Homo sapiens: one gene and its partners. The protein of the gene in region 1 binds, or shares a complex with, the protein of each later gene. Each region holds a gene or a part of one and is shown on either strand. Other genes may lie near its edges.

What was found.
Region 2: SMARCA4 (region 1) and SMARCC2 share a complex: the UniProt entries of both Homo sapiens proteins name them as parts of the BAF complex.
Region 3: SMARCA4 (region 1) and DPF3 share a complex: the UniProt entries of both Homo sapiens proteins name them as parts of the BAF complex.
Region 4: SMARCA4 (region 1) and SMARCD1 share a complex: the UniProt entries of both Homo sapiens proteins name them as parts of the BAF complex.

Annotation. Positions count from the first base shown.
Region 1 is NC_000019.10:10,964,013-10,971,034, reverse strand, and holds part of SMARCA4 (SWI/SNF-related matrix-associated actin-dependent regulator of chromatin subfamily A member 4), read right to left. Parts: intron 1-7,022. UniProt on the Homo sapiens protein: ATPase involved in transcriptional activation and repression of select genes by chromatin remodeling (alteration of DNA-nucleosome topology).
Region 2 is NC_000012.12:56,165,472-56,172,493, forward strand, and holds part of SMARCC2 (SWI/SNF complex subunit SMARCC2), read right to left. Parts: intron 7,020-7,022; coding exon 6,957-7,019; intron 6,467-6,956; coding exon 6,208-6,466; intron 5,962-6,207; coding exon 5,800-5,961; intron 4,738-5,799; coding exon 4,673-4,737; intron 4,441-4,672; coding exon 4,305-4,440; intron 4,225-4,304; coding exon 4,058-4,224; intron 2,724-4,057; coding exon 2,589-2,723; intron 229-2,588; coding exon 1-228. UniProt on the Homo sapiens protein: Involved in transcriptional activation and repression of select genes by chromatin remodeling (alteration of DNA-nucleosome topology).
Region 3 is NC_000014.9:72,891,088-72,898,361, forward strand, and holds the start of DPF3 (zinc finger protein DPF3), read right to left. Parts: upstream 3,015-7,274; 5' UTR 3,002-3,014; coding exon 2,970-3,001; intron 1,563-2,969; exon of another isoform or gene 1,257-1,562; coding exon of another isoform or gene 1,060-1,256; intron 1-1,059. UniProt on the Homo sapiens protein: Belongs to the neuron-specific chromatin remodeling complex (nBAF complex).
Region 4 is NC_000012.12:50,081,001-50,088,363, reverse strand, and holds the start of SMARCD1 (SWI/SNF-related matrix-associated actin-dependent regulator of chromatin subfamily D member 1), read right to left. Parts: upstream 3,023-7,363; 5' UTR 2,995-3,022; coding exon 2,818-2,994; intron 2,204-2,817; coding exon 2,016-2,203; intron 1,744-2,015; coding exon 1,701-1,743; intron 1,609-1,700; coding exon 1,486-1,608; intron 1,002-1,485; coding exon 879-1,001; intron 1-878. Other genes in the region: ASIC1 (acid-sensing ion channel 1), read right to left, coding at 6,715-6,819, 7,000-7,104, 7,183-7,262. UniProt on the Homo sapiens protein: Involved in transcriptional activation and repression of select genes by chromatin remodeling (alteration of DNA-nucleosome topology).

The DNA of each region.
Region 1 (7,022 bases):
AGTAGACTAGGTTTCTCCATGTTGGTCAGGATGGTCTCAAACTCCCGACCTCAGGTGATCCACCCGCCTCAGCCTCCCAAAATGCTGGGATTACAGGCGTGAGCCACCGTGCCTGGCCCACACTCCGTTTCTCTACACTCTCACACAGCACTTTTGACACCAACTCAGAGAAAACCAGTTTTCTTCTACTATACTCTCATAACCGAGAACAATTCTGTGACCAGATGCGTGGGTCTTTTCCAAGTAATTCTCCAAGTCTCCAAACACCAGCTGGGTGTCCTACAATTTAACTCAATTCAGACTCTATCTCCCACAAGTTAAGGACTTTATCGGCCAGATGCAGTGGGCTCACCTAAGCACAGTGCTTTGGGAGGCCAAAGTGGGAGGACTGCTTGAGGCCAAGAGTTTGAAACCAGCCTAGGAAGTATAGCACCCTGTCTCTACAAAAAATTTAAAAATTAGCTAAGCCTGGCAGTGGTGCACACCTGTAGTCCCAGCTACTCGGGAGCATGACATGAGCCCAGGAGCTGGACACTGCAGTGAGCTATGACTGTATCACTGCACTCCAGCCTGGGTGAGAGTGACACTCTGTCTCTAAAAGAAAAAGAGCTGTCCCATAAGACTGCTCCCACTACAAATGCCATTTGCACATCCCAGGGTCCAGTACTTCTGCCCAGCCACCTATAAATTGGGAATTCCCACAACCCCCTCCTCGATTTGATTGATTTGCTAAAGCAGCGCCCAGAACTAAGGCAGGCACTTCACTTCCCATTAATGGTTTATTATAACGGATACGACTCGGGGTCAACCAGATGGAAGCAATACAGACAGCTTCAATGGCCCCTCCGTACATGCCACCCTCTAAGCACTTGGTCTTTCTGGTAACCAGCCCCATCCTGGGCTATCTAGGAGCCCCATCCTAAATCACCTCATAAGCATAAACTCAGCTGTGATCAAAAGGGGCTCATTATGAATTTTAAAAGACACACCTATCACTCCTATGACATGTGGCGCAAAGACCAAATATATTCCATATCATACCTCAGAGGGCAAGTGGGTGCGGCCACAGGTGGGGCATAGGGGAGAAGTCACAGGCCTTGAGGGCCACAGTAAAGGGGTTCCAGGAGCATCCAGTGCAGTGGGGAGCTGCTAGAATGTTCCAGGCACGGGAGTGGCACGGTCTGATAATGACTTTAATTTCTCTGGACATGCTGATGGAATGGATGTGCAAGTGAGGGCAAGAGATGAGGCAAGGGTGAACACCAGGGTCTCGGCTGGGACGTGCTGTTAGAAACATAAAAAGGGGGCCAGGTGCAGTGGCTCATGCCTGTAATCCCAGCACTTCGGGAGGCTGAGGCAGGTGGATCACCTGAGGTCAGGAGTTTGAGACCAGCCTGACCAACACGGAGAAACCCCGTCTCTACTAAAAATACAAAATTAGCCAGGTGTGGTGGTGCATGCCTGTAATCCCAGCTACTCGGGAGGCTGAGGCAGGAGAATCGCTTGAACCCAGGAGGCGGAGGTTTCAGTGAGCCGAGACCCCGCCATTGCACTCCAGCCTGGGCAACAAGAGACAAACTCTGTCTCAAAAAAAGAAAAAAAAAAGAAAGAAATATAAAAAGGCGCCAGGCGTGGTGGCTCACGCCCATAATCCCAGCACTTTGGGAGGCTGAAGTAGGCAGATCCTTTGAGCCAAGGGGTTCAAGACCAGCCTGGGAGATAACATCAAGACCTCCACTTCTAAGAAAGTAAAACCTAAAACATAAATTTTTAAATAAACATAACAAGGCCCCCCTTCCTCGAGGCTGACCAAGCCCTAGAGCAAGGCTTGGCAAAGACAGGCAGGGCCGGGGTTCAGCCCCTGGTTCTTGAGGTAGAGGGTGGAGGCCAGGGAGATTCTGAGAGGAAAACGGAATTCTGAGTTCAAAGAGGTTAAGCCATGCAGAACAGAATCCCGCCTCAAGTCTCTTTGACTCCAGGGCCTGAGTAACTGATTCAGGCCGAGGATCAAAAGGAATAGGATGAGAACCTTGAAGGTCGAGGAAGGGCAGAGTCAAGAGGAAGGGCAAGTAAAGAGCCACTCCCACAGGCACCCAGGAGATGCCTCCAGGAGGCAGGCAAGGCCTTCAGGTGCCCAGCCAGTCCAGGCTGTGCCAGAATCACATTTGATCATCACAGGGGCAGTTTCAGCTCCCTGGGCACAATGAGACATCCACTATGCCCCTTTACTGGGACTTTCGGAGCAAGATGGGTCGCACACAGCAGACCCTCCCCCTCAAGTCTCCCACTGGAACAGGTGAGCAGCAACTGTCACATCAGCCACCTGCTTCCTGAGCCACTGGGGCGTGACTTGCCAGTGGCAAAGAGAAAACTTAAAAAACTCCCAAGAGCTAGCACAGTGGATCACGCCTGTAATCACAGCTAGTCAGGAAGTGGAGGCTGGAGGATCACTTGAGTCCAGGAGTTAAAGACCAGCCTAAGTAACACAGCGAGTCTCCGTCTCTAAAAAAATAAAAAGTGGAAAGAAAAAAAAAACACCTCCTCAAAGAACCATTTTAAAGTCGATCACTATTAAAAACGGGGCCCGTGCTACTCTATCACACTCACAGCTGGCTGCACACAGAGCAAAACGGTTCACAGTGACAAGTGTCCACATACATAAATGAAGCTATGCCCCTTTAGGGAGGTAACAGAGTCCCCAAAAGCAAAGCTCTGGAAACCAGTCTGGGACTTAAAAAAACATTTGAGGCCAGGAGTGGTGGCTCATGCCTGTAATCTCAGCAGTTTGGAAGGCCAAGGCAGGCGGATCACCTGAGGTCAGAAGTTTGAGACCAGCCTGACCAACACGGAGAAACCCCGTCTCTACTAAAAATACAAAATTACTGGCCGGGCGCAGTGGCTCACGCCTGTAATCCCAGCACTTTGGGAGGCTGAGGCGGGCGGATCATGAGGTCAGGAGATCAAGACCATCCTGGCTAACATGGTGAAACCCCCGCAGGGCATGGTGGTGGGCGCCTGTAGTCTCAGCTACTCGGGAGGCTGAGGCAGGAGAATGGCATGAACCCGGGAGGCGGAGATTGCAGTGAGCCAAGATCGTGCCATTGCACTCCAGCCTGGGCAACTAAGCAAGACTCCGTCTCAAAAAAATAAATAAATAAATAAAAATTAAAAAAAAATACAAAATTAGCCGGGCATGGTGGCGCACGCCTGTAATCCCAGCTACTCAGGAGGCTGAGGTAGGAGAATTGCTTGAACCTGGAAGGCAGAGGTTGCAGTGAGCCGAGATCACACCGCTGCACTCCAGCCTGGGAGAAAAGAGTACAACTGTCTCCAAAAAAAAAAAAAAAAACCACACATTTGAAAGGGGCCAGGGTTGGTTTCCACCCTACTAACATTTACCTATTTTCTAAAGAAAGCCCCCTTCCAGTCGGGCGCAGTGGCTCACGCCTGTAATCCCAGCAGTTTGGGAGGCTGAGGCAGACGGATAACGAGGTCAGGAGATCAAGACCATCCTGGCTAACATGGTGAAACCCCGTCTCTACTAAAAATACAAAAAATTAGCCGGGCGTGGTGGCGGGCGCCTGTAGTCCCAGCTACTCAGGAGGCTGAGGCAGGAGAATGGCGTGAACCCGGAAGGGGGAGCTTGCAGTGAGCTGAGATCGTGCCACTGCACTCCAGCCTGGGCGACAGAGAGAGAGCAAGACTCCATTTCAAAAAATAAAATAAAATAAAATAAAATAAAAACAAGAAAGCCCCCTTCCCTGAGGGAATTGGAGGGAAATCAATGTGTCCCTTCTCTCTGCCCTGTAACAACAAACCCAGCTACACCTGGCACTTCCATCCAGGCCCTTTCCCATATATGAAGAAGAGTTGAGGCCACAAATCACATGCCCATCAATCCCACACCCTGAAAAATTAATGATTAATGTCCTTAGGATGCAGTTAACAGAAAACTTCAATCAAGAAATCACTGGGCATACTAATGAGTCCGCTATGTCTCCTTAGGGTTGACACCTATGAGGGTGGCAGCACCTGAAGCTCCATTCAGCCTCAGGCTTCATTCTGACCTGTTCCCTCTCATACCTTCCCCCAGTATTCCAGCAGCTGTTATCCTTCCCAACCCCCGGCTTTTTTTTTTTCTTTTGTAGAGACGTAGTCTTGCTCTGTCGCCCAGGCTGGAGTGCAGCGGCACGATCTCGGCTCCCTGCAACCTTGGCCTCCCGGGTTCAAGCAATTCTCCTGCCTCAGTCTCACAAGTAGCTAGGACTACAGGCGCACACCACCATGCCCAGCTAATTTCTTTTGTATTTTCGTAGAGACGGGGTTTCACAATGTTGCCCAGGCTGGTCTTGAACTCCTGAGCTCAGGCGATCCGCCCGCCTCGGCTCCCAAAGTGCTAGGAATACAGGCATGAGCCACCGCGCCCAGCCCAACCCCCGGCTTTTTTAAGATAGGGTCTTGTTGTGTCACCCAGGTTGGAGTGCAGTGGTGCGATCACAGCTTACTGCAGCCTCCACCTCCTCGGCTTGATCCTCCCACGTCAACCTCCCAAGTAGCTGGGACTACAGGTGTGCAACACCATGCTTGGCTAATTTTTTAACTTTTCTGTAGAGACGGGGTTTCGCCATGCTGCCCAGGCTGGTCTTGGATTCCTGGGATCAAGTGATTTGCCCTGCTGGGCCTCCCAAAGTGTGGGAATTACAGGCATGAGCCACCACACTCGGCTGAACATTTGATATTTTTAAAAACCTGGCCGGGCGCGGTAGCTCACGTCTGTAATCCCAGCACTTTGGGAGGCTGAGGCAGGTGGGTCACCTGAGGTCAGAAGTTCAAGACCAGCCTGGTCAACATGGTGAAACCCCGTTTCTACTAAATATACAAAAAATTAGCCAGGCATGGTGGCGGGCACCTGTAATCCCAGCTACTCGGGAGGCTGAGGCAGGAGAATTGCTTGAACTCTGCAGTCGGATGTTGCAGTGAGCCAGGACCGCATCATTGTGCTCCAGCCTGGGCAACAAGAGCGAAACTTCACCTCAAAAAAAAAAAAAAAAAAAAAAAAAAAAACCATGCCACTAAACACACTCTCCCTTTTCCAATGCCTTATGGTGAAATTTCAAAGCATGGTTTTCTTCACCACATAACATTTTGGTCAATGATGGACCAAATATACAATAGTCCCATAAGATTATACCTTCCTCCTTGAATTGTCTAATTAGAAAAATTTTTTAAAGATCATAATACTGTATTTTTCCCATACGTTTTCTGTTTAGATATATTTAGATACACAAATACTATCGGGTCACAACTGCCTACAATAATCGGTACAGTGACATGCTGTACAGGTGTATAGCCTGGGAACAATAGGCTATACCACAGAGCCTACATGTGGACTAGGCTCCACCATCTAGACGTGTGTAAGCACACTCTATCATCTTCACGCAACCACAAAATCATCTCACAACGCATTCCTCAGAATGCATCCCTGCTGTTAAACAATGTGCAGCCATTAAGGACAAAATGGAGGAGCTGACTCCTTTGCTACCACTTTGAAACATACAGAACTTATGACTAGAGGAAAAAGTATATTATCTGTGTCATCCCACCAGGCTGTTGCAGGAATCCTAATAAATGATGAGCACTAACAACTGTTTAGCACTATGTGCCAGGCACCATTCTAAGCACTTCGCATTTGTCACTGGTTGTTCAGCTCTTGCAGCAATCCTACAAGCTGGGTACTAGTACTGTCCCCCTTTGCAAGTCAAGAGTGGGGTGTGAGCTACTAAGAACAGGACCCTTGTCTGCCTGTTCCCCATGGAATCCCCAGCTCCCCAGCAGTGCCTGGCACATGGCAGGCGCTCAATGCATGCTTGTTCGCCACATAAATGGGGAAGAGTGGCTGGGTCATTTCTTGCACAACTCCAGGGGGCACTATTCACATTGTGTTCTGTCTACAGGCACCATGAATGGGTCCTTCTGTGCCATGGCAGCCTTGATGACCGAGGGATGGAAAGACAAAACCAGGAGTCAAACCCAGGTGGTTGACTTGACAACCCTTGTGGAAAGAAAATAACCCTAGGCCTCAGTTTCCTTACTGATAGAAAGTTCCACCAGACTGGCTGGGCACGGTGGCTCACGCCTATAATCCCAACACTTTGGGAGGCCGAGGTGGGCAGATTACAGGAGGCCAGGAGTTCGAGACCAGGAGTTCTGGCCAACATGGTGAAACCCGGTCTCTACTAAAATACAAAAATTAGCTGGGCATGGTGGTGCACGTCCTTAGTCCCATCCACTCCAGAGGCTGAGGCATGAGAATCGCTTGAGACCAGGAGGCGGAGGTTGCAGTGAGTCAAGATCGCACCACTGCACTCCAGCCTGGGCGACAGAATGACTCTGTCTCATAAGAAAAAAAAAAAAAGAGGCCGGGCGCGGTGGCTCATACTTGTAATCCCAGTACTTTGGGAGGCCAAGGGCCAAGGTGGGTGGATCAGTTGAGGTCAGGAGTTCAAGACCAGCTTGGCCAACATGATGAAATCCCATCTCTACTAAAAATACAAAACTTAGCCAGGTGTGGTGGTGCACACCTGTGATCCCAGCTACTCAGGAGGCTGAGTCAGAAGAATCGCTTGAACCCGGGAGGCAGAGGTTGCAGTGAGACGAGATCGTGCCATTGCACTCCAGCCTGGGCAACAAGAGTAAGATTCCGTCTCAAAAAAAAAAGAAAGAAAGAAAGAAAGTTCCACCAGACATCTGCCCAAAACCCTAGTCCCTCCCATGCTCCCACCTCCCACAAACAGCCAAAACATGGAATGGTCTAAGGTTATCTCCTGGTGTTTTGAGGGTTCCCAAGGAGAAGCAAAGGTACACAAATAAATTGTAAATAAATACACATATGTTGGAATGCTCCTCACTGACAAGAAGTTTAGAGACCACTGCACTGCCCTATATCACAATTCTGATGACATCACCTCCCCTGCTCAAAAGCCTGCACGATCAACATTTACGTCTCCTAAAGGGCTGGACAC
Region 2 (7,022 bases), on another chromosome or scaffold:
AGGGACTACAGAGGCTGGAGCCACAGCCAAGCCATGGACTGCGGGTGGCCCAGCAGCCCCTGTTGGGGGGATAGGCTGGGAGCCTGGGGGCAGGGCTGGTGGTGGCTGCTGCTGCTGTTGGTGCATCTGTTGGAAGTGCTGCTGCCGAGCCCTCATCTCCGCATACTTCAGCTGCTCCATGTGGAAGGCTTGTCTGTCGGCCAGGAGCTGCTGCCTCTGATACTCCAGCTGCCAGTGCCAATTGAGTATTGTTATCCAATTTTCAGCAGATCCCAAAGGCAAATGCCTCAACCCCTGCTTTGTCTTCTTCTGAAAGAGCCTGCCTCTCAATCAGAAGGTTCCCAAAATCTACATCTTGTGCTTGTGCTCCCTCTGTCCTCCCCACCCGACTTCGTGCAAATTCCCATGACCTTTATGTCTCCTGAGTGCCCACATGGTTTCTTATTGCAATGACTTTAACCTGGCCCAAGCTCACTTCAGCTACAAAGCTTTGAACTTGCCATTACCTTGATTTGGAAAATGCTTCCAGTTCCTTTTGTCAATTCAAGTTCTTTTCTTACTTCAAAATTCACTAAAAAGTCACTGTTCTTAGGAAGCTATCCCAGATCAATTCATTTGCCTCTGAGCTTTAGCTTTATTCTATGATCTCAGGACTTAGAAACTTGATGTGCAATCTCTTTATTTTTTTGAGACTGAGTCTCACTCTGTCACCCAGGCTGGAGTACAGTAGCGTGATCTCAGCTCACTGCAACCTCCGCCTCCCCGGTTCAAGCAATTCTCCTGCCTCAGCCTCCCGAGTAGCTGGGATTACAGGTGTGTGCCAGCATGCCGGGCTAATTTTTTGTATTTTTTTATTCTTTAGTAGAGACGGGGTTTCACCATGTTAGCCAGGATGGTCTCGATCTCCTTGATCTCGTGATCCACCTGCCTCAGCCTCCCAAAGTGCTGGAATTACAGGTGTGAGCCACCGCGCCCGGCTGATGTGCAATCTCTTAATGTGAATTTGTCAGATACTTTAAACCTTCTTAACTGTTTCTGATGTCTCCATATTGTATATTCATTTGATGTCTCCCATTAAACCTTAAGTTCTCTGAGGTCCCTATCTTCTATTTCTTTTTCTTCTTTTTTTTTTTTTTGAGATAGGGTCTCACTCTGTCACCCAGGCTGGAATGCAATGGGGCAAACATGGCTCAGTGCAGCCTTGACCTCCTGGGCTCAAACGATCCTCCCACCTCAGCTTCCTGAGTAGCTGGGACCACAGGCTCGCACCACCACGCCCGGCTAATTTGTTTATTTTTAAAAAATGTTTGGGCTGGGCACGGTGGCTCATGCCTGAAATCCCAGCGCTTTGGGAGGCTGAGGTGGGCGGATCACCTGAGGTCAGGAGTTTGAGACCAGCCTGGCCAACATGGTGAAACCCTGTCTCTACTAAAAATACAAAAATTAGCTGGTCATGGTGGCATGTGCCTGTAATCCCAGCTACTCGGGAGGTGAGGCAGGAGAATCGCTTGAACCCAGGAGGCGGAGGTTGCAGTGAGCCGTGATTGCACCACTGCACTCCAGCCTGGGCGAAAGAGTAAGACTCCATCTCAAAAAAAAAAAAAAAAGCGTGATGACTCACCTGTAATCCGGCACTTTGGGAAGCAGAGATGGGCTGATCACCTGAGATCGGGAGTTCGAGACCAGCCTGACCAACATAGAGAAACCCCATCTCTACTAAAAATACAAAATTAGCTGGGCATGGTGGCACATGCCTGTAATCCCAGCTACTGGGGAGGCTGAGGCAGGAGAATCGCTTCCCAGGAGGCGGACGTTGTGGTGAGCGAAGATCACACCATTGCACTCCAGCCTGGGCAACAAGAGCGAAACTCTGTCTCAAATAAATAAATAAATAAATAAATAAAATAAATTGTTGAGACAGAGATCTCACTATGTTACCCAGGCTGGTCTTGAACTCCTGGGCTCAAGTGATCCATCTGCCTCAGTGTACCAAAGTACTAGGATTACAAATGTGGGCCACTGTGCCCAGTCCCTATTGTCTATTTCTTTTTATGTCCTCCAAAGACAAAATGGTTCAACACTGTGTCGGTCCCATTCCCTTTCCAAGTTCACCTCCTGGATCTGAGGCTCTTACCCTCTCTCTCATCATCCGTTACGCCCATTCACTCAATCACTATTTGAGTCTACTATGGGCCAAGCACTGTTCAAGGACCTGGAGATGCAGCAATCAAAACAACCAACTAGAGTCCCTGCCTCATGGAGCTGACCTTCTGTGGGACTTCAGTCCCCAGACTTCACTTGTGAGACCACTTAACTGTCTCTAACTGGCTGCCCTACTCCTGCCCTGTTCCTGCCCTGCTCTGCTTTGAAGCCCTGTCTGTCTCAGGCTTTCCCCACTGTTGCTTATCTTTCACTGAAACACACACACACACACACACACTCAGGCTTTCCCCACTGTTGCTTATCTCTCTTTCACTGAAACACACACACACACACACACACACACACACACACACACACACACACACGCCCCTCCGATTTTAAACTGAGGCACAGCGCAGCAGGGTTCCAGGGCTCCTGCTACTCACTGCTTCTCGCTCCCGGTCCATGATAGTCTCCAGCTCCTCAAAGTGCCGAAGTTTGATCTCCAACTTTTTCATCTGGGTCTCCACCAGCAGGGCCACCAAAGATTTGATCTTCCTTTCCTCAACAGCAGCCAAGTGCTAGGGAAGGAGGGGCGAGACAGCACATCAGTGGGAGGACCCAACTGAAGACAATACAGAAGAAAGGTAGGGTGGATGCTGGCAGGTATAAGAACAAATTTGCTGTGGTCACAACCCATGGTGAAAGGGCTTGACTTTTTTGTGCTGGGATTATAGGCGTGAGCCACCGTGTCTTTTTTCTTTTTTCTTTTTTTTTTTTTGGGACAGTCTCACTCTGTTGCCCAGGCTGGAGTACAGTGGCATGATCTCAGCTCACTGTAACCTCTACCTCCTGGGTTCAAGCAATTCTCGTGCCTTTGCCTCCCCAGTACCTGGGATTACAGACATGCGCCACCACGCCGGCTAATTTCTGTGTTTTTAGTAGAGATGGGGTTTCACCATGTTGGCCAGGCTGGTCTCAAACTTACAACCTCAGGTGATCCACCTGCCTCAGCCTCCCAAAGTCCTGGGATTACACGCGTGAGCCACTGCGCCCAGCCTTTTTAAAAAATTAAATTATTTTGGCCAGGTGTGATGGCTCATGCCTGTAATCCCAGCGCTTTGGGAGGCTAAGGCGAGCAGATCACTTGAGTCCAGGAGTTTGAGACCAGCCTGGGGCAACAGGGTGAAACCCCATCTCTGCTAAAAATACAAAAATTAACCGGGCATGCTGGCACGTGCCTGTAATCCTAGCTACTTGGGAGGCTGAGGTGGGAGAATCGCTTGAACCTGGGAGGTGGAGGTTGCAGTGAGCCGAGATTGTGCCACTGCACTCCAGCCTGGGCAACAGAGTGAGACTCCATCTCAAAAAATACATAAATAAATAAACAAGCATGGAGGCTGGGCACGGTGGCTCACGCCTGTAATTCCAGCAGTTTGGGAGGCCAAAGCGGGTGGATCACCTGAGGTTAGGAGTTCAAGACCAGCCTGGCCAACATGGTGAAACCCCATCTCTACTAAAAATACAAAGAGTTAGCCAGGCGTGGTGTAGCACGCCTGTAGTCCCAGCTACTCGGGAGGCTGAGGCAGGAGAATCACTTGAACTTGGGAGGTGGAGGCTGCAGTGAGCCGAGATCTGACAGAGCAAGACTCCGTCTCAAAAGAAGAACATGGAGATAGTGTGGCAAAGGGTAACATGGAGTCAAATACTGACAGGGTTGAAAACAGGCCCAATGGTGATATATTTTTTAAAGCTTAGAGAAGGGATGACTAACTTTACCTCCTCCTGAGATAAAAATAAAAAATAAATAGGTCAGCATTATTTAAGGTGTGAGTGAGGAAAGATTTCCTCTAAGTGAGATGAGATTAGAGAAGTGGACATTTTCTTCCCTGAGGTCTTCAAGGTCTGGCCTCACCTTAGCTTTCACTGCGGCGGCGGCCAGGGCGGCGGCAGCAGCGGTGGAGAGGTTGCCCTCGCCAATGTCCCGCTCCACCTTTGTCTTCCTTTCCCCCTCAGACTCCACCACTTCCTTCAGCACTTCCTCCTGCCCTTCCTTTGGCTCCTTCTCCTTCTCAGGATCGACTGGGCCAGGACAAGGGTTGAGTTAGCCCCACAGCTTCACCTCTGTCCTGCACCCCCACCTACCCTTGTGGGAGGCTCACCTATTGGGTCTCCATCACTCTTCTCGGACTCCTTCTCACTGTCGCCTTCTTTCCCTTTCTCCTCATCCTTCTTGGGAGCCTCGCTGGTTTTCTCTTTTGCTTCCTCCTCTATAGCACCCCCTCCTTCTCGGGGTTCCTGAAATTCCAGTGATAGAAAAGGAGAGTTATCAGGGATTAGGGTGATTAGTTCTCACACAGAGGGGCCAGACGGGGAACTAAATTTATTCCTCTTACTTTGGAGGTGATCTGATTCTAGGAGACAACCCCGTCCAAAACCAGCCCTTGCCCACCTAAGCTGAACAAGGCCAACTTCCCCATCACCACAGTGCTGCACGCAGCCCCTGCAGCTTCCAGAAATCCCTCTATACCTTGGGCTCCTTCTTCTCATCTGTGGCCTGGCCTTCCACCCGAGCCTCGTCATTCCCGCTCTCCTCTGGGCCCATGAGAAAAGAAAGAAAACAGGAAATGTTTAATACACAGTCGTCTGTGTCTAACACTTTTCTTTTTTTTTAGAGACAGGGTCTTGCTGTGTTGCCCAGGTTGGTCTCAAACTCCTGGGCCCACGCAATCCTCCCACCTCAGCCTCCTGAGCAGCTTGGACTATGGGTGTGAGCCGTTGCACCCAGCTTCTCCATAACACCTGTTTTTTTTTGTTTTTTGTTTTTTTGTGACAGGGTCTCACTCTTGTCGCCCAGGCTGGAGTGCAGTAGCACAATCATGGCTCACTGCAGCCTTGACTTCCCAGGCTCAAGTGGTTCTCTCACCTCAGCCTCCTGTGTATCTGGGGCTACAGGCGCATGCCACCATGCCTGGCTAACTTTTTTGGTATTTTTTGTAGAGACGGGATTTTGCCATGTTGCCCAGACTGGTCTCAAACCATCTGCCCACCTCAGCCTCCCAAAGTACTGGGATTACAGGCATGAGCCACTGCACCCAGCCTTCACAAGACTTTTTTTTTTTTTTTTTTTTTTTTGAGAGACGAAGTCTTGCTCTGTTGCCCAGGCTGGAGTGCAGTGGCTTGATCTTGGCTCACTGCAACCTCTGGCACCCAGGTTTAAGTGATTCTCCTGCCTCAGCCTCTGAAGTAGCTGGGATTACAGGCACGTGCCACCACGCCCAGCTAATTTTTGTATATTTAGTAGAGACAGGGTTTCAGCATCTTGGCCAGGCTGGTCTTGAACTCCCGACCTCGTGATCCACCCACCTCGGCCTCCCAAAGTGCTGAGATTACAGGCATGAGCCACTGCGCCCGGCCTTCACAAGACTTTTCTAACAGCCCCTTCTACAAGCAAAGATTTTTCTACCCAAAATCTTCATGAGAGGACTAGTAGGGCTCCAGAGCCCCTGAGGTAAACTCATGGGGAAAATAAAAACCCTACCAATGTTCTCATTCATGTTGTGCTCTAATGCCAACTTGAGGCAGAAATGGCACAGGAGGCCAGGTAGCTCTGGATCTTGTGAAAGGCAAGAAATCTGGGAACCTGCCTGGCCTTACCAATCCGCTCAGGCTCATCAGAGGTGGTTCCTGCAATGCCACTGCTTTCCAGACCGAAGGCAGGGTCCGCCTTGCCTGTTACTTTGGCTGCTTCTTCCACTTTTCGAACATGGGCCTCCACCAAGGCCGTGGGTACCTCTTCCTTCATTTTGGAGAACTCCTCTGCAAGACCCAGAAAGAATGAGGCTGGGAGCGGCACAGTGGAACAGTTCTGGCAATCCCTGCAAAAGCTTACTCACAAGCCCATGTCTTCATCTAAGCTAGTATGGAGCCTAGACAGGTGCCTGAGCTGAGGCCCGCACAGACAAGGCCAGCAGGGCAGCCAAACTTGAGAGGATTCACAGTCTGAGTAACTAGCCCTTCAAAAGCAAACTAAGAAGGCCAGGTGGAACCACCCACCCCCATTACCTAGGGCTGACTTTGCAGCAGCAGAGGCGACTCGGGGATCGACGACAGAGGCCAGGAAGGCAACAGTGCTCATAACAGGGTTGCCCGACTGACTGAAGGGGATGGGTTGGTAGGCCAGGGGGCCTAGGGAGGCCTCTGAGTCCTCCAGGTATGGGTCTTCAATGGGAAGACGAAGAAAATGCAAGATGCACTCGTCCTGTGTGCGGCTTCCCACATGCTCGGACACTTTGTTCCAGTCATCTTTGTACATTTCCAGTGCCTGGTGGTAGTGGTGGAGACATAACTCCGCTTACTTAGCCACTTTTCTCGAAGGCTGACTCCCCCCATCCTACTAAGGGCAGCTGGTTTCAAAGTTCTCTATGTTCTGGTATTTGTGTACTCTGCTAGGTCCAAGGGGGATCTTGAAGTAGCACTAAGAAAGGATATGAAGTTAATGAAATGGCCCAAATCCCCAGCCTGGAGCTGGTCCTGAAGCTCACTGGAGCCTTGACCTCCTAGGCTCAAGCAATCCTCCCACTTAGCCTCCTGAGTAGCTGGGACCACAGGTGTGTGCCACCACACCTGGCTAATTTTTAAAATTTTTCGTAGAGACGGAGTCTCACTATGTTGCCCAGGTTCATCTCGAACTCCTGGACTCAAGTGATCCTCCTGCCTTGGCCTCCCAAAGTGCTGGGATTACAGGCGTGAGCCTCTACACGGAGCCCACTTCTGTTTTCAGAGAAAAACTCTCTTTTCTTTGCCCCAATTACCTCCAGGAGAAGCAGGGTTTCCTGTTCTGTCCACTCACGAGTGGCACTGGCTGCAGCCTTGCTCTG
Region 3 (7,274 bases), on another chromosome or scaffold:
TGTGCCATCCCATCACCCCAGCTAATTGAATTATTGAATGTCCCACGTGGAAAAAGCTAGTACAGTGAAAAATAGCCCATACTCAGCGTAGGCAGAGCCCTGCATAGGTGCTGCTGGAAATCTGAGCTTGTTTCTTCCCAACACATTAACTACCACCACTTTATCCCCCCATCCTGAGGAAACCTTTGTGTGACCATTTTCTGTAGGAGACGTCCGTGGTGTTGGCTTTTTTTTTTTTGGAGGGAAGAGAGAGACTCAGAACGCACACAGAGAAAATGCTAATGTCGTTCAGCTCTGTTTCATTGTCAGGAGGGACACATGAGGATAAAAACATAGCTCTCCAAACCATTCTCCCCGCTACCCCTCCTCCCTGCACCACCACCATCCCTTCGGCTGGATGTGTCTCTGCACTTTGTTCTAATTTATCCCATGCATAATTTATTCACGTGTGTATTGTTTCCTGATCAGCAACTTTTAAAAACAAATGAAATATATAAGATGTTTTATTAAACAAGTTATTTTTAAAAAAATAAAGGCAGATGGTGTCCCTCTCCCAATAACAACGTGTGTGCTCCTGCGTTAGGAGTTGTCAAAAACTGTCCAGGGTGTGAGAGGCTGGGCTGGTCAGTGGTATTGTTTATACCCCTTTACTCACAGGGAAAGGGTCTGGGAAGCAGAAAGGAATAGCTAATTATAAATGACCAAGCAACTCCCACCTAGAAAAAGCAAGCAGGGGCGTTGTGTGTATGCTAGTGTCTGCATGTGGGTGGCAACACAATTACAAATACATCACGTTGCAACTGTTTCTAATTATACAAAGTACAATTCAGAACTAATTCCACTAACCGGCCAGAATTCCGCCACCTTCTTTCCCGCGTCTGTCCCTTCCCCCACCCTTAACCCCACCCTACACAGACTCCCTCCCCAAACACGCACCCTACTGTGATCCAAAAAACCCTGGAGCGAGTAGGGGAACACAAGCTTAGAGATACTGCGCCCGCCCGCGCGAAAGCGGGCTCCCGGGTAACTAGGGTACGGCTTTCCCAGGAGGAAACAAACCTGGTGCACATGTGAAATAGGTTCTCTAACTTGAGTTTACCAGGTGGCATCAGCCCGGTTATGTGATTTCGGCTGGAAATGGGGAAACTGAAAATCAGTTGTGGGTTCGGTAGAAACAGCATCAGCGGTGTTGCAGCGAAAGCAACCGGCAGCGAGGATGCGGCGAAGTTACGCCCATTTATTCTGCCATAAAACATTTTCTTTCTTGGGTGAAACGCTGTGGCGTTCAAGCGCAGTGTATCCGAGCTTCCGAGCCAGAACTGAAGCCAGGAGCTCCTATCTGATCAGCCTCAGCTTCCAACGTCCTCTTAACGGCAGCTTTCATATAAATATATTTGAAACCTGGGGCCTTCCTACCCCTTTCCCTATTTCTGATGGGCGACGAGCTGGCGCAAACACGTCCGATTCTCCCTGTGCATTCCTTTGCGTTAGGAACCCCCTACCGTCCCCGGGAGCGAACCTGGTTTTCAACTCCAGGAGTGGCCAGGGGTGAAGACGAGAATGCGCTGAATTAAAAGAACCAGGGTCGACAGCGGCCACGCACCAGGGAGAATTCGGCATGAACCGCCCCCCACCCGACCTGCACCTCCCTCTGCCACTTCGCCTGCGGCTTCGTCCGGGCGGGGAAGTCCCGGTCGAAGGGGTGAGGACCCCCCAGCCCACCTCGGATACGGAGGGAGCCACCCTCTGCCGACATCACCCAATAGCACCCCTTTCAGAGCGACACTAGTTTTCCGAGGCCACCCCTGGCTCCGCGATCGCGAGCGGACTTGGCGGCTTAACAGTTCCACTGACTGGAAGGAAGGAAGGAAGGAAGGAAGGAAGGAAGGAAGGAAGGAAGGAAGGAAGGAAGGAAGGAAGGAAGGAAGGAAGGAAGGATGAAAAGGAGGAGGAAGGCAGGCAGGCAGAAATTGGCTGTTGGACCCGGGGCTGGCCCCCGCGAGTCCTCGCCCGGCCCGCCCCACTCTGTCCAGGATCTGGGCAAGCGCTCAAAGTCTCCCCGAGGCGGCCAGAGGCACCTGCCCCTCGCCCGGCCGGGAGCAGACGCTGCCCCCTCGGGCCAGGAGCCCCAAAACCGCCTCTCCGCCTGCCTCAGCGCCTCACCCAGAGGTGGCGAGAACACCATTCATAAGACCTGCGGCTTCCCTGCCTCCAAATCCACCCCAAGTTAACCCGAGTCGTTAATCCACTAAAGCCAGCTCGCTCGCAAATACACGAGCAGACACACGCTCGATCGCCCGGAGCGCCTCCGAGATCCGGGGGCTGCCGGGGAAAGCCCGGGGCGACCACCTGGGCCCCAGCACGCCCGGGACCCGCTGCTTCCCCCGCGGTGCTCCAACTCCGGAAGGTTTGCACAAACTCCCCGCGAGCGATCGGAAGGCGAAGAGCGCCCTGCAAACTCCGGAGCCTCCGCGGTCCGTCCGCTGGACCCAGCGGACCCAGCGGCGGGGCGGGGGCCGCGGGCTCGGGGGCGCGGGGCTCGGCCAAGTACACCGAGGCGGCCACTGCCCGACGCTCGCCCCCCGCCCAGCAGCCCCCGAAGCCGCGCTCCCTGCCCGCGAGGCGGGGGACTCCGGGGACCGCGCCGTCCCCGAGCTCCCGCGACCCTCCTGCTGTAGAGCGCTCGAGCGCCGGGCTTCTCCGCCTGCAACCCCTATATCTGGCTCTCTCTGCAATTTAGCAGAACACAAATGTAACAATTTTCTTCTTGTTAATTGCATCTCCTGACATTTCTGCGCGTTGGGGGAAAAAAAGAAGATGAAGAAGTAAGAGCTGAAAGAAGAGAGAAGCCCCGCCGCGGCTGGAGGCGCCTGCAAGCGCAATGCTCTGGCAGCGCTCGCCACGCAGAAGGCGCCTTTTTTTTCATATTGAAACCACGCGGAATATGTACATTTTTTAGTCTTACTTACGCTTTCAGGGGGTTGTGAATGACAGTCGCCATTTTGCTACAATGTAACAGAATATTGTCTCAGAGTTCTAAAGGTTCGCTCAGGGGAAGCGACGGGCCAATCACAGCGCGGGATACCGGCCCGCCGGCCAATCGGCGCTGCTGGTAGCTAGGTGGGCGGGGCCTGCGCCGTGGTAGTTATTAGGAGAGCTGTCAAAGCCCAGAGGTCACTCCCTTTTGTAGAGCCCGAGAGCCAGCAGGTCTTAAAGGGGCAGTACAGCGCTGGTAGCTCCTTTTCGGGCTGGGGAAAGTGGAGACGCACGGGAGAGTATTATAGTTTGGTTTAACTCCCTACTTTTCTAAATAACTGCAGAAGAGTTTGCGCTCCCGGACAGAAATATTTAAATATTGCCAGCAAGCCACTGAATCCTATTCATTAGCCTTTGGCTTTGCGTATCAACATTTTTAATCCCCCAAAGGGTAAATCCCCGTGTTTCAGTGCAAAAGTTGGAAGGCTGCCGTTTCGTGTTAACAAATTACTACATGTGCTCTGCCGTTTGCTAATGCTCTGGGTCCTGCCGCTTTTTAATATTCTTATTCCCGAAGTGTTCTCTTTATCTCGGCCACCTTCCTCTCTCGCTTCTTGGAACTGTCGCTGCTGTTCCTGGCGACTCCAGGACAGCAACTCACCCTCCCCCTGGAACGTCTCAATGTCAGGCTCGCTCCCTCCTGCAGCCAGGGCTTTCCTTACGTAGTGCAGGGGGGTTACTCTGCGCGGTTCCCCGCTACCACCCCTTCGGTTCTTCCCTCTACACCAGAAACTTCCAAAATGCTCAGATTCCTGCTAGGTGGTGGGACCTGGAGCTCTGATCTTTAGGCTTAGGGGTAGGGAGGACTTAAGGCAACCTTTGGAAACTTTCTACTGCTAGGAAGCAAGTGACTAGGCAGAAGTTGTAGAGCCTGGACTGGGTGTTATCAGGGTCCCTTTAGAGGAGTGGCACACGCGATTCTGGCGTCACCTTTCACTACTTAGATAGAAGGTGGAAAGAATTTGCTAATGAATAATCCGATGTGACCCGAGGCGTCCAATGAGTCTGTGTCTGCTTCAAGTCAGTGTGAACTCTTCACTGGCGAGCCCCTGACAAAATTGGGAGACTTCTGCGAAGTCAGGCTTCCACTGGGCACCGGGAAGCTCTGGGGGGATGAAATCGCATTAAATCGCGAATAGGGTAGGGGCCTCGTTAGCATACAGAAGTCTGGCTACCATTCCAAAGCTGTTTAATCAGATCAAATAGCTAAGATAGTGGGGGAGGGGTGGCAAGGGGAGAGAAGTTGCCAAATTGCCAGTTCTTCAAAGCTATGCCCTCTCGCTTCCTTTTGCTCCTCTCAAGACAATGAATAAAATAAAATAAACATTCCAGAATTTTAAGAGTTCAACTACATACACTATTAGATTTACAGATAAACAGAACGTGGCTGAATCACTATGTTTTTAAAAGATTTGAAATCTTTAACTCCTCTCTGCGTATTTAAGAAGCAGAATTGAGTTCTATAGATTCCTTTGTAAATCCTTTGCATAGCATCTTGGCAGAGATTACAGTTTGAAAAAGTTATCTCCTTTTCCAAAATTGAAGTTTGAAAAATCCCTTCTTTACTAATTTGACAAGAAATTGGTTCAGAAGCCTATACTTTGCCTGAGGTGGGCCTTGACATCATTGAAAAGCAAGAACTGTATTCTGACCCAAGAAGTATGAGTTTGAATTATCAGTTAGAACTCCCAATAACCTCTTTGAGGTATCAAAGACACAACAATTCAGATTAGTAGACGACAACGTATTTTCTTACATGCAGCCTGATAAAGGAGGAAATGTAGAGCATGTCCTGAACAAGATTTACAATGGGGGAAGAGAGAAAAAACAAATGTATATTACATATTAAAGAAAACACATACTCTAAGCATGTACATATCATTTATTGTGTTAAGGCCTGGATGCAGAAACCAGCATAATCTCTAACTACCTAACGAACTTGAAAATGTCAGATCAGATTTATTGATTGGATTGGAAAATAGTGAATTAAAGACAGTACTTTAAAAAAAAAAAAAGGATAGCCTTGCTTTTTGTAACCCAATGGAATGTCATTTTAACTCTATCAATACAGTTATGACTTTTAAAGAAACACTTATATTTAACAAAAGAGTTATTTTACTTTAATGTTTACATTATAGATCAAAATATAAAGATTTCTTTTTTTTTTTTTTTTTAACCAGAAGGTTCAAAAGCAAAGAGTAGGCATGTTTAAAGAGGACAGTATCCTTAAACAGTTTTGGAGAAGTTTGGCAGTTCTGGGGCAATTTCATAGTGCTGTACATGGCAGAAGTATGAGCTCTGGAATCTACCAGCCTGAGTCCACTATTTACCAGCTGGGTTACCTTGGGCATATTTACTTGCCAGGATTAAATGAGGTAATACATGTCAAGTGTCTGACACACAGCAAGCTTTCAATCCATGTTATTATTTCTTACAGAGATAATTAATTCTTTCCTTACGGCATATGGAATGTAGGGAATCCAAAAAACAAGGCACAACAGAAAGTGAAATTAGCCATCACATTTAGTTTTCTAAACTCATTAATCCAAGAAAAATGAGCAAATGGACAACTTGGATTAGAATAAAATAATAAATAAGAATGATGTTTCAATGAGGGGTCACATAACTATATAACCCTAAAAAAGGCTTCTTGCTGATTGTGATACCAAAACACTTTTTAAATTTTTTTTTTTTTTCTGAGACGGAGTTTCACTCTTGTTGCCCAGGCTGGAGTGCAGTGGTGTGATCTCAGCTCACTGCAACCTCCACCTCCCGGGTTCAAGCGATTCTCCTGCCTCAGCCTCCCGAGTAGCTGGGATTACAGGTGCCCACCACCACGTCCAGCTAATTTTTTGTATTTTTAGTAGAGACAGGGTTTCACCACGTTGGCCAGGCTGGCCAGGCTGGTCTCGAACTTCTGAATTCAGGTGATCCACCCATCTCAGCCTCCCAAAGCCCTGGAGTTTTTTGTCGTTGTTGTTATTGTTTTCAGACAGGGTCTTGCTCTGTTGCTCAGGCTGGAGTGCAGTGGTGCAAACACAGCTCAACATAACTCACTGCAGCCTCAAACTCTTGGGGTCAAGTGATCCTCCCACTTCAACCTCCCAAGTAGCTGAGACCACAGGACAAACCACCATACTCAGTTCATTTTTTAATTTTTTGTAGAGACCAGGTAACACTATGTTGCCCAGACTGATCTCAAACTCCTGGACTCATATGATCCTCCCACCTCAGCCTCCAAAAGTTCTGGGATCACAGGCATGAACTACCGCACCCATAGCCTAAAATCCCATTTCTAAAGCTCCATAGCTATTCATATATTTGAATACACTTCATTGTATTCTATCCCTTTTATCTTGATTTAGCTAGTTAGGCAGCTTAATTTGGAGAGCAGAGTGGCCCCAGAATAATCACCTCCACATCTCACCTGGAGAATGTTGAGCTTCACTGTCCAATATAGGAGCCATGGGCCACAGGTGACTACTGAGCACTTGAAATGTGGCTACTCCCAATTGAGATGCGCTGTAAGTATAAAACAATGCACCTGATTTCAAAGACTTAGGACAAATAGAAGGTAAAATATCTCATTATAATTTTTACATTGATCATTTGTTGAAATGATATTTTGGATTTACTGGATTAAAGAAAATATGTTATGAAGACTAATTTCACCTATTTCTTTTTACTTTTTTTTAATGTGGCCACTAGGAAATTTTAAATTGTACATGTGGATGGCATTGTATTTTTATTGTACAGTGTTGCACTGTACAATAAAATGAAGAGATCTGCCTTTTTGCACTGTACAATAAAAACATATAAGAAGTGTGTGTCACCAGGGAAAGAAGTGTGGGGACCATTCTCAACCATATTAACTCACCCTTGATGTCAGTGAGTGAAACTCCCTGGCCCAGCTCAAGTATTTGTTGAATGCCATCCGTTTGAAGGAACACTGGGCACAACCAAGGACCCAAGAACCTAAGCCAAAAGGACATCCATCTCTCTTTTTCTTAATTATTTATTTTATTTTTTGAGGCTGGAGTACAGTGATCCGATCTCGGCTTACCACAACCTTTGCCTCCCGGGTTCAAGCGATTCTCCTGTCTCAGCCTCCCAAGTAGCTGGGATTACAGGCACCTGCCACCACGCCCAGCTAATTTTTGTATTTTTAGTAGAGACAGGGTTTCACCATGTTGGCCAGGCTGGTGTCGAACTGCTGACCTCAGGTGATCCACCCACCT
Region 4 (7,363 bases), on another chromosome or scaffold:
GTATTAAACCAATCATAGTAGCAACAGAACCCTGAAGAAGCAGCCTAGAACACATAGAGGGTCACTGTTTTACCCATCTCATTTGCCCAAGGGAAATGAGGCAAGTTAAGCAAACCATTGCACATAACTAAGCGAGTTTGAACAGAGAAAAGTCTGACTCTAGAGGGGAAATGAATCACAGGCAATAAGCAGCCAGAACAAAAACAGCTTTATTTGGACAGAATGACACCACCAGCAGATGGACCGGACCTATATAGAGAAGGAGGCTCTGACACTGAGCCCTGGTTCTCCTGCAAAAGTGCATTCCAACTAGCTTGCCTGCGAGCAGCTAAAAATAAGAGCCAGAGAATGTAAGGGAATGAGAGAAAGGTGAGCTTCCCCGAGGAGCTTCTGGGGTGGGAAGTTTGGGGACTATCACCTGTCAGCTGATGCTCCCCAGGAAGCAACAAAGAGCCTGTCAAGAGAAATCTATCCTACTTAAACTGTGGGGTGCCTCCAGTGAAAGTTGAGAAGATGGAGATACCACAAGGACTCAGAGAGGAAACACAGCCTCAAATTAAGTGCAAACTCGATTAAAAAAAAAAAACTAAATAATCTACAGATATGGCTAAATCCAATGGCCAGCAGCACCAAGAGGAAGGTAAACCACAAATCAGATCCCAGGACAATAAGGTTCTCCATATGATACCAGTGAGGGCCAAAGGTGTGGGGGCAAACACAAAGGACCACTGTCTTTCAGTGCAGGGAACAGTGTCCCTCTCCTTACTGCTCCCAAAAGGAGCTGTGAGCACCAGTTAGGCTTCCTGCTGACCAGACAACACTGTTCATTCCCAGCAGCTCCCACCCTAGATGCCAACCATTGTGGACCTTGAACTCACATCCTCCAGGAGCCGTCCTTCTACCCGAAGCTCCCAGGAAGCCACCGTCCCTTCCCCATCCTCGGCATCTGACTTAGCCGGATTGAAAGTGTTAGAAATGAAAATTCGCAGCTTCCGTTTTTGCTGAGGAAGGCAGAAACAGGATTGATCGTGGGGCTTCAGTGGTCTGATGTTGAAGACAACGGTCTCCCCAAACCCCAAAATTACTCCTAACAGACTGGCTTACTGTCTACCCAGTCCCTTGGGTGGGTGGATGAAGATTCCATTTAGAAGAGGAGTACTGGCCATCAGCCTAAGTACAAGTGCATATAGTGGGATGCCAGGTGGACAAAGTCATGCAAGGTGCCAGGTTCCCAAGGTAGCAGAGCAGTTACAGCGAAAACATGGACAAGGGTATATTTGTAGTGCAAGAGACATCAAGAGCCCCTCCCCCTTTGCCATTCTGTTCTTATCCTCCTAATGTAATTCTCAGTTTGTAGGCGGAAGGGAGAGATGCAATTTAAATGCCAAGGAGAGTTGTGCTGTGCCTTTGATTTCTCATCCTAATTCTGCTGAAGGTTCCTGGGTCCTCTCCTTTGGCTCTCTGCCTAGTACTTTCCTGTGTTACCTTGATGGGACGTTTCAAGGCCTCTTGGATATCTAGCCGTTTCCTCATGATAGTCTGGTCCAGTTTCCTTTCAAAAGCCAAGAGATCCATATAGGCCTGGGATTCTGGTACCAGTTCACGAATCTTAGGAACAGAAAAATTAATTGAAATCTAGGATGATCATCTCTATACTCAAACTCACCACACTTTCCAGAAGACATATAGCCTGGACTCACCCTTTGAGGTAGAATTTTGTCAGCCATCTTCTTTTTCTTTGCACTGTTGGGAATAAATACTATTATCAGGTTGGGACAGAACTAGTCAGAACGTGAAAATAAGCTGTCAGCACGTCCATTTATAGTAATGTGAAGGGACTGCAAAGCTTCTCTCAAAGAACTACCACCACCACCACCACCACCAAGCATTCTCAAGGATGAGTTCTGTAGCACCATCTGCTGACACAGCACCACCACTTCTTGGTTCAGGTACTCCCACCACCTGTGTCCTCCCAGGCTCCCTCCCTCCCTCCCTCTGCCCCAGGATCATCTTACTTGTGGTTTCGATTTTGGACCGCCTGCTGCTGGACCTGCTGGATCTGCTGAGGGGCAGGTCTCTTGCGGGACTGATCCATCCCTGACTGGGCCAGGCCAGGTCGGACTGAAGGGTTCCCCCCATAGCCAGGGGGTCCCATGGAAGGTCCCTGAGGTGTCATTCGGCTGCCTGGCAACATACCTGGTCTCTACAGAGGGGAGAGGACCCAGAGATGTCATGGTTTCACCTGCTAAACCCCATCAAGAAAGAAAAGCAGGGAACGCCTGAGATCTTTGAATGAAGTAAGGTTTAGGGATGGAATGGAGGACAATGAGAGGAGAACCCTTTGCTCCAGTAGTGACTCCATAGAAAAACAGAGTCCAAAAGCTAAGCGAGAGCCAGATTATACTCAAATTCTCAGTCTATTTTGGATGGGACACATCGGACATCGCCAGTTCCACATTTACTCTGCTAGCTACTATCTCTTTAGAAGCTGACCTCAATTTGTCAGCTACACGTTCTGTGTTCCTCTGATCACTGGAGCTGCTCAAGCCCCTTTGCACTCCGGCCCTCATACAGGTATCCCTGGACCCACTTCACCCACCCAGGTTCTCTACCGACTCCCCAGGGAAACAATGCCCCTAGGAGCAGGTGTGTAACTGCCTCCCCCTCTCTTTCTGCGCACTGCCTCCCCCAACCCCCACCCAGAGCCCGAACCCCTCCCAAGGGAGTCCCTCCTACTTCTCCCCCCACCCCTGTCACTCCCATGTCCCCGCTCGGCCCCGCCCCCGGCCCGCGCGCCCCTCCTCCTGCCCCACTCACCGGATAGGCCGCTCCGGGCATCGGGGAGCGGTACAGCCCTTGACCCGGAGCCGGGCCCATTCGCACAGGAGGCCCCGGAGTTCCGCCCGGGCCCAAGGCAGCAGCCGCGCCCGCCCCTCCTGAGGCTCCGGCGCCGCCGCTTGGAGCCACAGACTGGAAACCCGCCCGGGCCGCCATCTTCCCGGAGCCGCCGATGCAGCCGCACAAAGAACCGGAACCGGAACTCCCCCCGCCCCCCGAGCGCCCCCCGAGCGCCCGCCTGTTCCCCCGGCCGGCCGGCCGGCACGGGAGGCTCAGGGCAGCGAGACTATGGGATAGAGCGGGGCGACTAGCGGAAAAGGCGTGCTGGCCACGCCCTCCCGCCTTCACGGTCCGGGAGGGAAAACCATAGAGAAGAGCTCTGCAATAGAGAGGCCGCGTGAGCGGGCGCCCCCAGGCCGACGGGAGGAAGACAAGGACCTGGAAAGGGGGACGGACCACAGCCTCAGCCCCAGTCTCAACCCCAACTCGAGCCCTCTGATGAAGAGGGGCTTGGAGTAATAGCTTCATCTTGGCGCATGGCGTTAACTTTCCAAAACGCTTTGACTGCTTTTCGTTTCGTTTTCTTACTGCTATAACTATCAGGGGCTGAGGAGGGAAACACAGTTTATTCCATTTTACAAATGGGAAAGCTGAACTCACAGGTGAATGACTTGGCAAAGGTCAACCAGCAAGTTAGCCATAAAGCCGAAGCCAAGATTCCAGATACCCTTGCTCATAGCCCGGGACTCATTCCACAGATAAAGTGCCTCAATAAGTACCTCACGTGGGAACTTCATCCTAACTTTCTCTCTGACCTAACCTGCTTCCGGATTATTATTTTTTATTTTTTATTTTTTTTTAGATGAGGTCTGTCTCTCTCTCGCCCAAGCTGGAGTGCAGTGGCACCATCTCAGCTCACTGCAACCTCCGCCTCCCAGGCTCAAGTGATCCTCCCAACTCAGCCTACCAAGTAGCTGGGACCACAGGCATGCACCACCATGCCAGACTGTTTTGTATTTTTGGTAGGGATGGGGTTTCGCCATGTTGCCCAGGTTGGTCTCGAACTCCTGAGCTCAAGCGATCTGTGCTCCTCAGCCTCCCAAAATGCTGGGATTACAGGTGTGAGCCATTGTGCCTGGCCTCAGATTTTTTTTTTTTTAAATATTAAAAAATAGGGATGGGGGGCTGGGCACGGTGGCTCATGCCTGTAATCCCAGCACTTGGGAGGCCCAGGCGGGTGGATCATGAGGTCAGGAGATCGAGACCATCCTGGCTAACACGGTGAAACCCCGTCTCTACTAAAAACACAAAAAAATTAGCCGGGCGTGGTGGCGGGCGCCTGTAGTCCCAGCTACTCGGGAGGCTGAGGCAGGGGAATGGTGTGAACCCGGGAGGCGGAGCTTGCAGTGAGCCGAGATCGCGCCACTGCACTCCAGCCTGGGCGACAGAGCGAGACTCCATCTCAAAAAAGAAAAAAAAAATAGGGATGGGGGTTTCACTATGTTGCATAGGCTGATCTCGAACTCCTGGCCGCAAGTGATCCACCTGTCTCAGCCTCCCAAAGTGTTGGGATTACGGGCATGAGCCACCGTGCCAGCCTGCTTCCAGATTTTATGATAAGTTCCAGTTTATCTTGAATTTTGACTCTGCTCTCTCTCTCTAAAGCATCCTTTGTATTGGGGATTCTGTTTTGGAACTTTGTTGCCTTTGACTTCTCCCTCTTTCCCTGCCCAGTGGTTCAAACTATTCCTGATATAATGGTCAGCCTGTCCCATCCCAGGGGGACCACAGTGTCCCTACTCAAACCTTCTCCTTACTCATCCCCTAATTGGCCCCAAACCAAGCTCAGCTTTAGGCACTTAGTGAGAATATCTAAATACTTTTTCAAATAAGAGAACAACACTGAAGAGGAGATGGTTGAAACCCAGTTTATTAGACCAGAGGCATGCGTCACCCAGAGCCCTGCCTGCTGTTCCCCTATCCAATGCACACTTTTTGGCCTCATTCCTGCTTCCCTCTGGGGAGGTATGATCTCTGAGGAAACTCTTAGGAACCAAGAGATTCCAAAGATCCTACAGCCTTACTCTCCAGCTCCAGGCCAATGCAGCTGCTCACAGGTCCTGTTCTGGGATTGAAGACCAAGACACAGCTAGGGAAGGAAGGCCTGAAGAGGGGTTGGGGCTCAGGCCTGGAAGGAGTGTCTGGTGGAGGGAGGGGGGGCAGGCCCTCCACCTCACTTGTCTCTCATTAAGATAGGGTGAGACAACAGCAGAGCTTTCAACTCCTCCTCTAGGCCTCTCTTTCCTCCCAAACCCACCTCACCAGAAAATAAAAGTGGTGGGCTTGGGTATCAGGTGAGGAAAGGGGGCTGGGCACCCAGAAGGAGGAAAGGCCACTGACTGAGGACCTCAGCTTCTGCCTGTCAGCATCCCACTGCCCCAACTTCAGGAGTCGCCAATCCCCAGCTCCCTTCTGTCTCTGACACACTTGGCTTAGTGTCCAGGGTAGACCTCCATCCCCTGGGTGGGGGCTATCTCTACAGCAACCCCTTCCCTGGGGATGCCACTGTCAGCTGGGCAGAGGGCAATGGGATAGGAGGAGCAGGGGAAGAGAATGTTAAGGCTGCAGGGAGGGCCGAGGGTGCCCGGGTTGGGGGAGAGGGTGAGGCCAGAAAGAGGCAGAGCTTGTGATTCACAGCTTCCTTTGTCGCCACTGAGACAGTGCAAAGGTTACAATGCGCGTGTCGTCTCCTTGTGCTTCTCAGAGGGATGTGTGTACACAGTACAGACACCAGGGGAGAGAGTCCAACTCTTTATACAGGCGAAGGCATTCAGAGACCAGGGAGGGAGTAGAAACATAGAAGGTGGAACTTGGGGTGGGAGAATGGTTCTCAGAGACAAGAGGGGATGGGGTGGAGACAGACAGGGCTGGGAAAGTATATACAGAGATATAGCAATATAGAGTCTGTATCATATAGAAATAGAAAATGCAGATGAGGTTGTTGAGAGAAGCAAATGAAGTTGGGGAAGAGGATGTGGGAGAGTTCCATAAGAAAATTTATGGACGTGGCCCTCTACAAGGGCCTCCGGGAGAGGGACCAGTGAGGTTAGGCACTAGCGCCCTTCTCCCTGAGCTGGACGCTAACCAGCCCGGTCTTTAATGGGATGGTGAGGAAGGGCTGCCTCTTGGGATTTCTCTCCAGCAGCTGTGGGGTGGGGGTGAACTTATAGGTATCAGGATGTAGCCTACAGCACCAGGGCCGCATCTTGTCCCCATTACCACTTCTTAAGGGGATCCCCGACCCCCACGAGATTCCACATGGTGTGAGAGAGTGGGGCTGAGGTTTTAGTTCCTGCCAGGAGACTTGGGTTTGGGGACAGTCACTGGGCTGAGAGGGTCTCTTAAGGCTGGGGAAGCCTCCCTCCCCCACACTAGCCCTCCCCCTTAAGGTACATTCTCTGGTTTGGGGCCAAATTCCAGACCCCAGAGATCCCTTCCACCCCTCACTGGGAAGGGCCTTTGGTGACTGGTGGCAGCAGAATGTAGATGGACACTCAGATGGCAGACAGCTAGATAGACAGAATTCAGGCTGGGAGCTAGGGGAGGCAGCATGGAGGAGAGAGGGGCAGCCTGAGGTCCCTTGCCCCGTTCTCCCTTTTTAGTTCTTTTTTAGATTAGTTTTGTTAAATGTAAAAAGAATGGGATAGAGGCAGAGAGAGGACTCTATGGTCAAGACTCCTTCCTTACCACAGACAAGAGGAAAGATCTGCCCCGGAGTGTGGGGAGTCCCCAGGGCAGATGTGAGGAGGCAGCTGGGGGCCCCCTCGCTCTCCTAGTCCTCCCCATCTAGGCCTTTGGTTCAGCGGCCTGCGGGGCTCAGCAGGTAAAGTCCTCGAACGTGCCTCGGGCCGGATGGTGAGGTAGGATGTTGGCAGCGTATGTCATCCCGGCAGGGTGGCCCCGAAGGCTCTCGCACGGGTTCTGGGGGAAGGGGACAGGACAGGGACGGGTTATCCCTCGGAAGGGCTTCAGGTAGTGCTGGGGCATTCGGGAGGCAAAGGAGAGAAGGTGGTGGCAGAGGCGGGTGGGCGGGGGTGGACGGGGTTCCTGGGGCGGTGGAGGCACAGGCGGGCTGGAGGGCGCCCTCGCTCGCTCCCTCACGTGTCTTTTGACGTCGTCCAGGCTGAGGGCCACGCCCTTGTCCGCACTGCTCCTTTTGGCCTCCTTCTGGCATTTTCCTCGTCGGCACAGCTTGTGCTTAATGACCTAGGACGGGGACGGGGCAGGTGGGCGGGCTGGACCCCGCCCCCACGTGGCCCCGTGCCGGGCCTCGCCCCCGCTTACCTCGTAGGCGTAGTCAAAGAGCTCCAGCACCGTGAGGATGCTGGCCCCGATGAACAGCCCCATCTGGCCCCCGATGTCACCTGCGGGGGCAGGCGCCAGGGGGGTCAGTGGGGTCAGGACATCGTGGGGGCAGCAGGGTTTACTGGGACTGGGGCAGGCAAGTTGTATTCTCAAAGGGATT